Homo sapiens: one gene and its partner. The protein of the gene in region 2 interacts with the protein of the main gene of each other region in a biochemical or structural test. Each region holds a gene or a part of one and is shown on either strand. Other genes may lie near its edges.

Region 1 (7,953 bases), on a different chromosome or scaffold from region 2:
GTGTATGTTTGTGTCAGAGAGAGGTGCACATACACATCAGACACCAGAAATAAAGACAGAAAACACAGAAGAGGAGATTAAAAAATTCAAACACTTTTCTTCAATTTTCAAAGAGGAAAAAAGTATTTCTCAACGCATTTTACAAAGCTAACAGCATATAAGTAACAAAGCCTCATCAAGATGAGCCATCCCTGCCCTCAACACAAATGCAAAATTCCAGCAGTATATAAAGAATATAGTTTATATTGGAAATGCAAGAATACTTCACAGGATATTGTTACTTTAACTCACCACTGAAAAAGCATTTGACAAAATACAGCATTCATTTTTAAATTATCTAAATATCCAAGTAAAACAGAAATAGAGACATCTTATTTTCTATCAATCTAATTCTACCCTATCATTAAGCTTAAAGTGAAATACTAGAGTCATCTCCATTGAAATTAGGAATAAGGTAAGGGCACCTCCTTATTACTACTATGTATTTTTTTCCACTATGTATGACAAAGGTGAACATTAATACAGTCTTTATGAATCAATACAAATAAAAATAAAAAGGAAGTTTAAAAAGCTAATGATCGATCAACTTCATTGATGATTTTTAAAAGTGCACATCAACATAGTAAAATATTTTCCAGCTATTAGGTTGACAATTCAAAAAATCCTAATACCTTTCATTGGAAAGGGTGTGGAAAAGAGATCACTCTACACACCATCAGTGGGAAAATACTGATACATTCTTTACACCAAGAGTAGCTTGGAAAAGATGTATCATAATTTGATAGGCGAGGATACTCATCACTATACTAATGAGGGGTGTAACTTAAAATTGTTACCAAAGGGGTAAAGCGCTTTCACCCAGCAATTCCACTTACAGCAATTCATCTCAAGGAATTAATAATACAAGCATGCCAAGATATTTACACAAGGATATTCATAGCATTTTTTTTTTTTTGAGACTGAGCCTCCCCTCTTTGTTGCCTAGGCTGGAGTGCAGTGGCATGATCTCAGCTCACTGCAACCTGCCTCACAGGTTCAAGTGATTCTCCTGCCTCAGCCTCCCGAGTAGCTGGGATTACAAGTGCGCACCACCACGCCTGGCAAATTTTTCTGTTTTTAGTAGCGATGGGGTTTCGCCGTATTAGCCAGGCTGGTCTCGAACTCCTGACCTCAAGTGATCCACCCGCCTCAGCCTCCTAAAGAGATTGATTACAGGCGTGAGCCACCGCGCCCAGCCCATGATAGTATTGTTTTAATATTGAAAAAGTATTCATCATAAGCGAATTCGGTAAAATAATGGTATAATTTTTAACATATACTGAAAATTAAAATTATCTTCAGAACAATGCCCACATCAATTGAAAGATGCAAGTTGTAAAATAGTATTATGCAGCACGGTGTAACTCTTGTAAAAGTTGGCCCATCTATATGCAATACATGCATAAAAATAATCTAGAAGGTCATACATGTACCAAAATTTAACGGTTATAAGTGTTGGGATTAAGATGGATTGCTATTTTCTTACAGCGATTGTTTTCAAATGAGTAAATATGATACTTTTATAATCAGAAAAATAATCCAATGAAACAATTCGGATTTAACTCTAAAAATGAAAAGTGTTATAATAAATAATTACTTACAACTCAAGGTGATTACTTTTTATTAGCATGGATAACTATATGTTGCACAATTACACATAATAGGTGTTTATTTTTATTTTAATGTTTATACATGGTAATATAAACTGTGTATAAATTTCCTCCCTGAAGAGACTGAGAATTATCAATGCAGACACACACACAGCATGTAATACGCGCGTTCGTGACTCAGTGGTTGGTCTGCGTGTTCAGAGCTGCATCTTGTGGTGGCGCTGAAGCAACGCTAGGCATTTACCAAACTCACAAAAACGCACACCCAACGCTATCTACCAAATGGACATTTTGTCAAAGGATCCTGGTTTATCGAGAGGGAAAAAACCGTACCCAGAATTTAAAAATTCTAAAATTCTTAATGGTAACTGCTGAAACCAACCTCGTGCGGCAAAGATGGCGTCAGGCGAGCTTTTCTGTCGCCGCCACACGAGGGAGCCGCCATCAGCAAGTCCCCCGCAGCTGACAGGCGCGAGGGGACCAGAGGCACTTCCGGCCCAGCCCCCTCAGCTACAGGGCCATGCCTTCAGGACGCCCCACACCCCACGCTGAGGCCCCCACGAACCCCGCCCACCCCACCAAGTACAGGGACCAGGAGGGAACCACTTCCTAAGGAAGCTCCGGCCCTCGAAGTTTAAGAAGGCAAGTCCCTCAGCAGGCCCGCCGCCATCTTGCGGAGCCACGGGGAGAGCGCGCCAGAAATGAGGCTGGCGGGGCGGAGGCGCGTGGGAGTGGGGGAGGGGCGGAGGCGCGTGAGTGGGGGAGCGCGTGGGAGTGGGGGCGGGGTGGGGCAGTCGGGGGTGGGGAACCCGCACCCCAAACCTCTGCCAGTAGAGAACCCGAACCGGGAAATGGGTGCCTCAAGAAGGCCGTGGCCCTTGCACGTGGCCGGCGAGGCAGCGCGTCCTCGGGGCCCACCCCCACCTTGCCGCCCTTGGCGTCCCGCGCCTGCCTCTCTGTGTAGGCCGCGCCACTGCCAGGCCGCCTCTCCCAACTCTGTGGGCCATGGCTGTGGTGCGTCCAGGCAGGTGCCCCCCAAACAGGAAAGCCGAGGATGACTTCACTTTCCGACCCTGCAGAGCCGAGTTTCACCCACGAGTGAAGACTCCGCCAGCCTTGCCCCTCGGGCCTCTCCCTCAACTCACCATGATGGCGGCAGGCAGCAGTTCCCGACCGGCTCCAGGAGGAGCAGAGGCTGTGCTTGGCGCACCACTTCTGGGGCTGCTGTGAGGTCCGCTGGAACCCGCTGCGCGGCTTCGAGTGGTCAAAGGAGCCAAAGATGAAGAGAAAAGGAAAACCAAGAGCGGGTGACAAGGCTGAGGAGCCCCGAAAGGCGGACCGTCAGGCTGAGGAGCGCAGGCGGACTGAGGCGTGGTCCGCGGGGCTCAGGGAGGTGGCTCCTGCGCCGGGTATCGGGGCGCGTGGTATCGGCCTCAGCCAATGGGTGGCAGCGCCCCGCCCCCTGCGTGGGGGGGCTGCGGGGGACGACGGCGCCCACGCGGCGGGGGCGTAGGGTACGCAGCGCGTGTGCGCAGGTCCGGTGCCTCAGTCCCAGGAAGGCGCCGCGCTCACATAGACCCACAGACACACACATCACCCCCAAAACACCCCTAAAATAAGTATGCATACTGAAATGTATGGTATAGTTTACAAAAATGATAATCTAATGTGTCTAGGCTGCAGTTTCCAAATGGCTTCTCTAAGGCACAGGGTTAGCGCCATCACTTTTAGCTTCACACTCACCCCAAAATCTTTTTTAAATGCCTACAGAAATAAATCGAAGCAAGTCTGTGGAAAACAGAAGGAGACATCAACAGGCCAGAAACTTGCACTCCTTTCTGTCAAGTTTGAGATAGAAGGGGTTGGATGGGAGGAAATGCCAGTTTGACATTCAGGATGTTTGTTCTTTCAAGAAATAGTTACTGAGTGCCTGTGATTACCAGGTACAGCAGATGCAGGAGTGAACAGAATAACAGAACATGTGTTTGCTCAGGGATCTTACATTTTAATGGGAGAATTCACCTTCCAGGCCTTACAGGAAGGCGCTAGGCCTGCCTAGAGAATTCTAGAACATTCTTAAGGTCAGAATACGGGCGTAGAGCAGGAGCAAGCTGTGGGCCAGTTGGTGGAGCCCATCACGTAACTTCGGGAACCACTGCAGCACCTTAGCTATACACACAGGGCTAAGTAGCTATGACCTTTATCCACAAACTTCACTTCTGTACTGACGGAAAGCATTAAAATGTTACTTTTTGAGCTGGCAAAACGGTGGACTTCTATAACGTGAGCAGTATCTCATTACTAACACCTAGTAATGCGGGATTAAAATAAAACGTTTTATTTTCAATATGCAGCTAAACCCATAAGAAAAGAAGGGAAATTCCAAGTACCAAAAATAAACTGAAAACCAGAGCAATGACTTATTCAACTGATTCTTCTCCTGCCCGGGATATGGGGGCTGGGCTGTAGGGCAGCCAGTCATACTAGTTTGCCCAGGACTTACATGATTTTAGCACTGAGAAATTCCTACGTCCCTAAGGAAACCAGAAGGATTGGTCATCCTAGGTGTGGGCAAAGTGTTGTTACTCTCTGTAACTTGAGATCTGGATGTTTAGTGGTAGGAGGTAAGGGCTCAGGGTGGGAGCTGGAACTGAGTACTCTGCAAAACGCCATTGTCCCTAAAATCCTTAGGAAAAGGATGGAGTAGGGAAAATGTGAAACACCCATGGCGAGCAGATGAGGAGGCTTGTCCCATCTCTGGATGAAGAAAATATGTATTTAACTCTGATTAAATTTCAAAACCCTAGACCTGCATTTCATCAACGTTTGGAGTTTAAATCTATAATATATTATTGGAATCCCCAAGCCAAGAAATGGATCCTCCTACACCATCACCCTCTCTCCTGCCTTAAGAGATCCTAGACATGGGGCATCTAGAATGCCTGGCAGAAGCAAACATAAAACCGACTTGAATGAATGCTTCTGCAACCTAGGCTGAAAGTGATTCTCATAAGAAAATGACCCTTTAATGAAAAGCTCACAATAAAAAATTATACAATACTACTTACCTTGAATAAGAATGGCATACGAAAAAGAAAGTTAAAATGTCAAAAACTAACAGAAGCAGCTTCTTTTGCATTGTGTATACGTGGTTTTTTTTTCTTTTTCTCAGTTTTTTTCCTCAACTTATTTGGAGTAATGCTCACGCTCTGGCTCTCTCTCTCTCTCTCTCTATGTGTGTGTATATGTATTATATTAATTATTAATTATTAATTATATTATATTAATTATTAATTATATTATATTAATTATATTATATTAATTATATATATATATATATTTTGAGACAGAGTCTCGCTCTGTTGCCCAGGCTGGAGTGCAGTGGCGCAATCTCGGCTCACTGCAAGCCCCGCCTCCTGGGTTCATGCCATTCTCCTGCCTCAGTCTCCCGAGTAGCTGGGACTATAGGCGCCTGCCACCAAGCCCGGCTAATTTTGTTTTTGTATTTTTAGTAGAGATGGGGTTTCACCGTGTTAGCTAGGATGGTCTCAATCTCCTGACCTCGTGATCCGCCCGCCTCAGCCACCCAAAGTGCCGGGATTACAGGCGTGAGCCAATGCACTCCGTATTTTTAAGTGATTTGTATTACTATTTTAAAATGTAAACTTAAAATATAAAGCTAATAAATAGCTTTACTTTCTTCTTGAATAATGCAAAGGCCTTTAGGATGTCTTAGCTCTACACACCCTCCCCTCTCTCAGTTTATAAGTTATTCACTATTTTAGTTCTATCCTGGTTTCATCATATAAATTAGACGTCGTTTTTTAGACACACCCACATATGTAACAACATTTTGCTTACCATTTCTTTGCATATCTCAGATCTTCCTTCTGAATCATTTTCCTTGTGCCTGTAGCAAATTCTTTAGAATTTCCTTGAATGAGAGTGTGATGTGGTAAACCCTTGCGTTTTTTTCCACCTGAAATATTTTGATTTTTCCCTGCTGTTTCATGATAATTCTACTGAATATATAATTTTAGGTTTACAAGTATTTTTTCCCCCCTCAGAATATTGAGCATATTACTCTGTTATCTTCTATTTTCTATTGCTACTGAGAAATCTGCTGTCAGTCTTTTTGATGTTTAAGACCAATTTTTCTTTGGTGTTCTGAATTTTCACAATGATGTAAGTAGATGTGGAGTTTTAAAAAATTTCTCCTGCTTAGGAGTTTTAAGACTTTCTGGATTTGTGTATTAGCTCTTAATAATTCTGAACAGTTTCACCCGTTTTCTTGTTAAAGATTAGCTGGTTAAGGGATTAAACATTATTTGTATTTTATATTTCATAAGTTATTCTTATAATTTACTTTTCTTTAGATCATGAATTTTTCAAAGGTTGGTGCTGTTTTCTTGAAATCGCTTAATAGAAAGAATTTTATCTAAGATCAAAACTGACTGTATCCATTTCAATGTGTTAAGATTAGTGGCATAATTCGTATCAGTTCAGAAATAAATCTCTATATTGCTTCCTATATGGGGGGAGAAGAAAAAAACGCTGGTGTCTTTGAACACCTCTGCCAGTTCTTCTGTGCTCCTAAAGCCTACGGCTTTGGAAAGAAGGCTATGTTTGTATAGGCACTTGAACTTCACTTCTGCAAATCATTTTCAAGATTTTTGTTATATCTGTCCTGAGTCTCTATTATTATTTACCTGTTTTAAAAATTAACTTCTTGTCCTAAACAACAATATTTGCAAGATCAGACTTACTGTTTTAGCTACATTTTTTTAACAATGACATTAAAATAAATACAGAATGATTAGAATTTAAAACAATGTTTGTTTATGCATCACTTCATACCACATACTCCCAGGGCAGCGAGTAACATAGTTTTGGGAAACACTGGATTAGCAGAACTCTATAGAGCTTTAGATATGCAAACTTAGGCCCAAGGGACTAAAGAGTAGAGTTTCAAATTGTTCTGCCTAATAAATGAGAGTAATCATATTACAAGGGGAGAAACCAAGCAAGACAGGGAAATTGGAGGTCCTAGAAGCTGGAGAAAAGAAGTAACCTTGCAGGTCAGCATGTTAGCTCATGCTTGTAATCCCCACACTTTGGGAGGCTGAGGCCGATGGATCACTTGAGTTCAGGAGTTTGAGACCAGTCTGGGCAATGTGGTGAAACCCCGTCTCTACCAAAAATACAAAAAATTAGCTGGGTGTGGCAGTGTGCACCTGTGGTCCCTGCTTCTCAGGAGGCTGAGGTGGGAGGATCATTTGAGCGTGGGAGGTGGAGGTTGTAGTGAGCCAAGATCACCCCACTGCATTCCAGCCTGGGTGACACAGTGAGACTCTGTCTCAAAAAAATAAAAAATAACCTTGCAAAGTGACAAAAAGTTGGAGCCTGCAGTGAAAGGTATCTGAGTACATTAGAATCATGTGGGGAACTTTAAAAAATTTATATGCCCATGCCTCGCCCCAAACCAATTAAATCAGCTGAGGGCAAGGCTCATAAGTCAGTGTGTGTGTGTGTGTGTGTGTATATATATATATATATATATATATATAAATGTTTCTCTAGTTACTCCAGTATGCAGCCATATTTGAAAATCGGTGCTATAGAGCCTTGCTACTCAAAGTGTGATCCTCAGATCAGCAGCTTCACATCACGTGAGTGCTGTAGAATCTCAGGCCCCACCCTAAACCTACTGAATCAGAATCTGCATTTTAACAAGATCTCCAAATGGCTCATGTGCACACTGAAGGTGAAGAAACATTGCCATAGAGAGCACTTGTCATAAACAACTTACCTCCCTGGATTTGAGAATCCTTCACCTTACAAATTAAGAGTCTACTTTCTCAGCCTTTCTTGCAGCTAACAGCTTGGGCAGGTGACCTACACAACATCAATGAGATGCAGCCATCCTAAATTTTGAATAGGGGACTAATGATGCCATAATGAAGGGACTGCAGAGAATACTTTCTGGAGAAGAGTATCAACAGCAGCAGCAGCCATGGTATAGGTTAGAGCTGCAATGACTGCTACTGTCAGTTGTGCAAACCATGGTGTACTCAGTGCCAGCTGAGGTTTCTTCACTGGACAAGTTCTGCAGCATGATTTCGTGTGTCATTCCTGGAGACAACCTGACCCTTTGGTTCATTTTGAGATTCTGTGAGCTAGTTACCCAATAAATTTTAATAAGTTCTTTTCCTGCTTAAACCAGCCAAAACTTCTGTGACTATTGCTTACAACAAAGCTTCTGGACTACATTAGGTGATGAGTGAGGTCAGCCAAACTGCTTTTA
Region 2 (7,020 bases):
AAATTAGCCGGGCGTGGTGGCAGACGCCTGTAATCCCAGCTACTCAGGACACTGAGGCAGGAGAGTCGCTTGAACCCAGGAGGCAGAGGTTGTAGTGAGCCAAGATCGGGGCACTGCACTCAATCCTGGGCAACAAAAGTGAAACTCCATCTCAAAAAAATAAATAAAATAGTCCGGGCGCGGTGGCTCACGCTTCTAATCCCAGCGCTTTGGGAGGCCGAGGCGGGCGAATCACGAGGTCAGGAGATCGAGACCATCCTGCCTAACACGGTGAAACCCTGTCTCTACTAAAAATACAAAAAAATTAGCCAGGCGTGGTGGTGGGCGCCTGTAGTCCCAGCTACTCAGGAGACTGAGGTAGGAGAATGGCGTGAACCCAGGAGGTGGAGCTTGCAGTAAGCCGAGATGGCGCCACTGCACTCTAGCCTGGGCGACAGAGTGAGACTCCATCTCAAAAAAAAACCATAAATAAATAAATAAAATAAAATAAAACTCTGGGTGTGTCGGCTGATCTTACACTCAGCTTTTCAATTACAAGTGACGTGTACAGGAAAATTAGTCAAGAATTAGAGCCTGTGAGGCTGGGCGCAGTCACTCACGCCTGTAATCCCAGCACTTTGGGAGGCCGAGGCAGGCGGATCACAAGGTCAGGAGATCGAGACCACCCTGGCTAACATGGTGAAACCCCGTCTCTACTAAAAATACAAAAAAATTAGCCGGGCGTGGTGGCGAGCGCCTGTAGTCCCAGCTACTCGGGAGACTGAGGCAGGAGAATGGTGTGAACCCAGGAGGCGGAGCTTGCAGTGAGCCGCGATTGCGCCACTGCACTCCAGCCTGGGCTACAGAGTGAAACTCCATCTCAAAAAAAAAAAAAAAACAATTAGAGCTTGTACACCCTTAAACAAATGCCCCCCTAATCCTGAAGTATGAGGCTAAGACACGAAGTCCAGGCTCTGTCTCCTGAGGAGCCTGTGAGAACTGGTTGGGCCCAGACATTCCTGCTATGAGCTCTCCAACCCGCAGGAGCCCGGGCTGCCCTTTAGCCTAACCAGCGAGGCCACAGGCGATGGAGCCCATCTGCAGGTGAAGGGCCTGGTGGCAGGTGACCTGCTGACCAGCCGGCACCCCACCTGTGGCTGAGGCCAGACGTGTAACACAAGACTCCCCATCACCCCGCCCACCACCTGGCATCTCCGGAGCAGGCGGGAGGCCCTCCCACAAGGCCCCCTAGACTTACTGAACTGTGGCGGGGCACCGTAGCCCTGAGGGAAGCCCTGGGGAGGGGGAAAGCCTCCAGGAGGGGTGGACACGATGTAGGAGGTGAACGGTGGGGGTGGCGGGGGGGCTCCTCTTCCTGCAGGGGGCGGTCCATAGCCACCTGAAACACACAGTACGGGGGTGATGGACAGAGAGCGCTGGACAACACAGACTGGCCACAGTTAGACCCAGGCCTGCCAGGGGCCCTAGCAGGCCCCTCACCCTCTCTTCCTCTCCAGCACTCAGGACACGGGAACCAGGCTTTGCCGGCTGCCCCAGGACACCTGGCGAGTCAGCCTGCCATGTGGCTTCTGTCCCCGCCTTTGCTCTATAAACAAGGACTTACCAATCGCCTGTCCTGCCGGCACCCACATTCCTAGATAAGAGAACAGAAGAGGAGGTTGGCGCCGTGTCCACCAGCTGTCCGACGCAGAGAAGGAGCCGCAGAGCATGGACGTCAAGGGCTGGGACCAACCCCGGAGCCTCCTGTGCTTAGAGCCTGTTCGTCCTGAGGGCAGAGCCCTCTGAACCCTGAGCAGAGAAGCACTCCCCACCCCTTGTAGAACAGGCCTTAAAGCCACTCTCCTCTGTGCCCTGCCAGGTGGCGGGCACTGTGTCTGCTGACTGGGGCACGGGTGACCTCCCGGCTCCACCTGAGGACCCCAGAGAAACCTGAGACTTCTAAGCCTCGAGAGGGCAGGGACAGTCCCCACAGCACCTCCGAGTTTCCAACAAGGGAGGCTCCAGAGAAAAAGGTTTTAGACGAGGTGCAGGGAAGCCACAGTCTCGGGACCCGGACGACGTACATCTGGAACCCTGACCCACAACTCGGGTCGGGCTGCAGCCAAGCCCAGGGGTTCCGTGGCTGCTGGAAGCTCCAAGGACGGCCCACAACGTGGGCCTAACTACAGAGGGCCCACGGCACTGCAGAGGGAACGGCAGGTGGCAAGGATCCAAAGCCTGCCGGCTCCTCAAGCCCCCCAGGGGCAGCACCCCGATTCTGAGCTCAGCTTGGCAATGCCAGCCCTCTCAGGGTTTCGTGCTCAGACCTGCCGTGGCACACGGTCGCGAGGTGCAGACGCTCACTGCAGCTCTTCCCGGTGACAATGAGTCCCAGGCCCCGGACGGGCACCTAAGCCGTGGCCACCCCGCTACTGAGGAGGCTGCGGGTGCTGCCCGGGAGCTGGCTGTCAGCCGGCACCTCGCGGGGGCTCAAGGACACTGTGAACCGCGGCTCTGTGCATGCACAGCAGAGGTGGGGAGGCCGCAGCGACGGCACAGCCCAGGGCGCGCGGGCCAAGTCCGAGAAGGGGGACATTCCCGTGGGCACCTCTGCATCAGCCTTACCTTGCGGGCCATATCCTTGCTGCCACGTGGGCGGGGGCTGGCCTGCCCAGCCATTGGCAGCGTTGGGCACAACCCGGCTCCCCCACTGGCTGGCACCTGGCTGTCCCGGCGCTTGGCTCTTGCTGTCCCGAGGCTCAGCTCGTTTAACTTCCACCTAAACAAACCGAGCTCTGGTTTAGGGCGAGGCTGCGGGTCCCAGCACCCCCTTCCCTTTAGACACACCCTCGGGTAACTTATGACTACACTTAGCATCTTACAACTTAAGACTAAATACTTAACTATAAACCTTATTTAGGCCAGTAGCATTTTTTTCTTAAAAAATTCTTTTGTGTTGAATTTTTTTGTTTAAAAAATGTTTCTCAGGTACAACAGATGCAACCGTAAGACACACAGAGCCCGCCCACTGCGGGGCAGCAGGACCGAGCCCAGAGCCCTCGGGGGTTTCGTGCGTGACGAAGGGTCTTTCACTCAAGTAAAATGGCAGCGTCCTCCTTCCTCTTGAAAACATGGGGACAAAAAGGGACCAGGATCTTCCCAGCAATCGGCATCCTCATCGCCCTCTGGACTGCTTGGAGCCCGCCCACCTGTGCTTTTAACTCATACCTGAGAAACACGGCTGGTGTTTTACTTAGATTTTTAAATTTAAAATGTCTAATGGAAGATAAAGACTTACCTTCCCCAGGCTAACGCTTAAAGAATCTCAATTAACTCAAAACTAATGTCAGAGGGAATGGATGTGATAAGAGAATCTTACATTACATCTAACAAAAAAAGTAACAAACATGCAATAAAATGGACATTTGGATCAGTAAGCAATCTTCATACTGTGTTCGCTCAGCAGCCCGGGGCCCTTCCTCTCTAGACGTGTCAGGAGCCACAGTCTTCTCAGGAGGAGGGTGCGGGGCCGGGGACAATGGATGGAGCAGGCCTGACCTACTTATTCTAGGCGCAGTGGCTGACCTTCCTTTAATGCCTGCTTGAAAATATGGGTGGACTAACAACAGAAAGATCCCCCCAATTCCGGGGCTGCCTCAGCATTTGAGAATCCTGAATTTGTCTCACTTTTCTGATAAATCGTAATGAGAATAAAGAGACAATGGATCCACCTGGAGTCAGCCTTGGGGTCTCAGTCTGGAGAGCTGCACATCCTGAGTTCAGAATCCCTCAGTTCTGCCTGTTAGAGAACAGACAGCAGCAGCCACAGAGGCACAAAGCCCCCACCTGCCCAATGCCCCAAGGACCGGCCTATGATGGGAACAGGATCCGTTAGCTCAAGGCAATGTGACAGCAGGACCAAGGGACCCATTTCAAAGAACTCAAATGAGCGAGTCTTCACACACCCTCCTCAGGGGACTGCGGTTCCTGCTTACAAAGCAGAGCGGTCCTTGTACTTTAAAAAAACAAAAACAAAAAAAAATTCTTTCACCCTTTCCTACCTGAATGCAGCAATGCAGTCGCCTGGCATGGAGGGTTAACTACCACGCGGTACCAAACACTCCACAAACGGAAAACCCCCATGAGGGGCCGGCGGCGACGCCAAGTGCCGCTCCAGCCAACCAGTGAAGGCCGGCGCCGGGCAAGCTGGACTCCAACGACTGTCTGGCTTGGAAGGCGAGACCCACACTGAGGTCGCCCAGCTCAGGAGCTCGCGCAGAACAGTCATGGCTGGGGGGACCCAGGGGCTGCCCAGGGACGGCAGCAGGTGTGTGCACTGTACAGAGCTCTTTCTGCCCCGTATATCAAGACCACGCTTTCCCCAAATTGTCAGTGTCGTAGTCCCTTAAAACACTGGGCGCAGACTCCTTGAAGCCCTGCTTGTACTGTCGCGCACCCATGCAGCCGGCAGGCTCATTTTAAACCACAAGCTGCACTCGATGTCAGAACAAGGATTGTGTCTCCTGTTTTAGTTGGGTTCAAATGGAATTAATGAAGTCTGCAACCCAATCTAAGCCACGTGTATACAAAAATAACTACACATGCTACTGTTTTTAAAAAAGTTCTGCTATCAAGACCTCTGGCTGGGGTAGAGGGCAGGGGCAGGAGATAATGAGCACGATGCTCCCTCCAGGACATTTTAATTGAAAAAACAACCATGGCCCTGTCAGAGGGGCTAAGCGTCTTCTTCCGTTAACGGGAGAAGCTGCCGCACCAAGGAGGCCGGGTCAGAATCCCACTGGGCATGTGAGGCGGCCTGGCAGAGCCAGCAGAGCTCCTTGGTTTGAAAGGACCAAGACAGGAATCCTGCAAAAACCTGGACCCCTAAGCTTTTGCTAACTGCAAGAAATTCCACACTGTAGAATTTCTACCAGTTATTTATTTCAGAGTCCACTTCTCAAGAACCTCCAAGGGTCCAGGTAAAACAAGGATTTAGGGACCCCTTTCTGACACATGCCTTCCAAGGGCTGGCCTGGGGGTTGGGGGGGTGGCCTCCTGTCCCTCTCACCTCCGGGGGTAACACAGTATGAAGATGACACAACCAGAGGTCACTTGACTGCATGGTGGCTGAGTACTACCGAGAGCATGTGGCTGGTGCCGGAGTTCCACAGTAAGTGACCCAATTCAAACAACCAGTCCTTCATGATGTTTCCACTGTGCTTTCCATTTTAAGCGGAACCTCGGCTCTCAAAGGTCCCTTGCTGATCACATTACAGGTCAGTGTCAGACAATGGGGATTTGCAGACATCTGAAGGAGTGGTCGTGGAAACCAAGCCTGAGGCAACGCTGCGGTTTCACTGGAGCCAGCCCCAACACCGCCACAGCCTCCCAGCCCCAGCCCCCTACCCGCCCAGTCCCAGGTCACCCAGAGGGAGGGGCTCCAGGAGCAAAGCTGAGAGATCCCCACCCCGCAGGAAGGGTGCTGGGGAAGGATGGGACCCTCCTCACGTCTACAGACCCAGGCCCACCTCACGCAGCAAAGGTTCACAGGACGAACTCGCCCGACCCTTTCCGTGAAGGAATGTTCCTTTCCAGTGAAACCCCTAAGTTGCCTAAGACTTGGTTTGGTCTTAAGGTAAAATAAAACTACAACTACACACTTTTTTGCCCATGATGTCGTGAAAATGCATGTTGACAGCCTGGTCCACTGATTGTTCGTCCTCGAAAGTAATAAATCCAAAACCTAGCCAACGACGAAGAGTGAATCAAGGTAGCAGGGTGTTGTGACACAAAACAGGATGATGAACAGTATTAGGGACGGGCCGAGGGATCGACCTTGGGTTTCAGCTAAGCTGTGTGTGGGGCGCTGCGGGCCCCTGGGGCAGCTGCCTCCCTCCCCAGGAGCCACCACTCGACTGCACACGGAGTGGACAGACGGTGACGTCCGCACTCCCGGTGACGGCTCTGCTGACTGAGGCCTGAGTCAAGCCTCCGCCCCAGACACCCCGGGCTGGGGCTCCGTGTCACAAAGATTTGGAACAAGGAGCACATCTTATAAAACAGCAGCGGAGACAGGGGAACGGTGAGGGCCTCCATCGCTACTGGCAGACAAAGCGCCCCCCAGGGGAGGGTCAGAGGCCCGTGCTTGAATATTCTGGCTCTCGCCTGTGGGGAGATTGCCAGTGAACCCTGCAGGCCGGGGGCCCGCGTGGAATGCGCCATCTTAGTCAGGGGTGTGCACCGTGGATGTGTGTATGCTTCTCTGAAACCCAGGATTCTCCCCCTTGGCTTGCAATTTGCTTTGCAGCTAGTGCTGACAGCAGCCATATATCGTTCTAAAGCGTTAACAGATACAGTATCTATCATAGCTGGTGCCTCGCTAGGCTTACGCAACACCGTTGGGTAAGCCCAAGGAGTCCTAGAAGAGGTCATATCGTAGACATCTATGCATGTTCTATACAGGTAGAGAAACAATGCACAAAGATACAGGCCACAACGGGTTCCAGCAGGTCAGACTCTGCTGCCAGCAGCAAGAGCGAGATGCACCATGGGATCAAAACAGAAAATTTTAAAGGCAAAAAAAATTTAGCATTTCCCAAACACAAGAGTGGCAGTATAAACGAAGTTTAGTGGGTCTGGGGTGGGCGCGGCCCCCGGCTAACGGGGCGGGTCTCCTCCTCTAGGCGCAGGAGTGCGCCGGGCTCTCCAGGCCTCCCCGGCTAGGTGGAGCGTGACACCGCAAAGCACACCGTCCTCCCGAGGCGGGGCCCAGGCGGCACCAGCCCCTCCCCAGATGGAAGTGCCCGGCAGACAGCTGCCCAAGACCTCACAGAACAAAGATGGACATGGGAAGAGCTGAGACCGGGCTGAAGATGGGCTGCCCGCGCCAGAGGCACAGGGTGCGTGACAAGGCACCACACAGCAGGGGACAGCGCAGCACGGGCGTGAGGCGTGAACGAGCGCGGCAGAGAAGGGCCGTGGGGGGTGGGAACAGGCAACGGCCCCCGGAAGGAGCAGCCTACTGTGGGGCCTCTCAAGCTG

What was found.
Region 1: the proteins of DAZAP1 (region 2) and DAZL form a complex in vitro, tested with the Homo sapiens proteins (one study listed by BioGRID).

The regions. Positions count from the first base shown.
Region 1 is NC_000003.12:16,602,409-16,610,361, forward strand, and holds the start of DAZL (deleted in azoospermia-like), read right to left. Parts: upstream 3,016-7,953; 5' UTR 2,798-3,015; coding exon 2,795-2,797; intron 2,383-2,794; exon of another isoform or gene 2,095-2,382; coding exon of another isoform or gene 2,032-2,094; intron 1-2,031. UniProt on the Homo sapiens protein: RNA-binding protein, which is essential for gametogenesis in both males and females. Plays a central role during spermatogenesis.
Region 2 is NC_000019.10:1,424,580-1,431,599, reverse strand, and holds part of DAZAP1 (DAZ-associated protein 1), read right to left. Parts: intron 5,723-7,020; coding exon 5,640-5,722; coding exon of another isoform or gene 5,639-5,639; intron 2,759-5,638; coding exon 2,605-2,758; intron 1,634-2,604; coding exon 1,604-1,633; intron 1,379-1,603; coding exon 1,238-1,378; intron 1-1,237. UniProt on the Homo sapiens protein: RNA-binding protein, which may be required during spermatogenesis.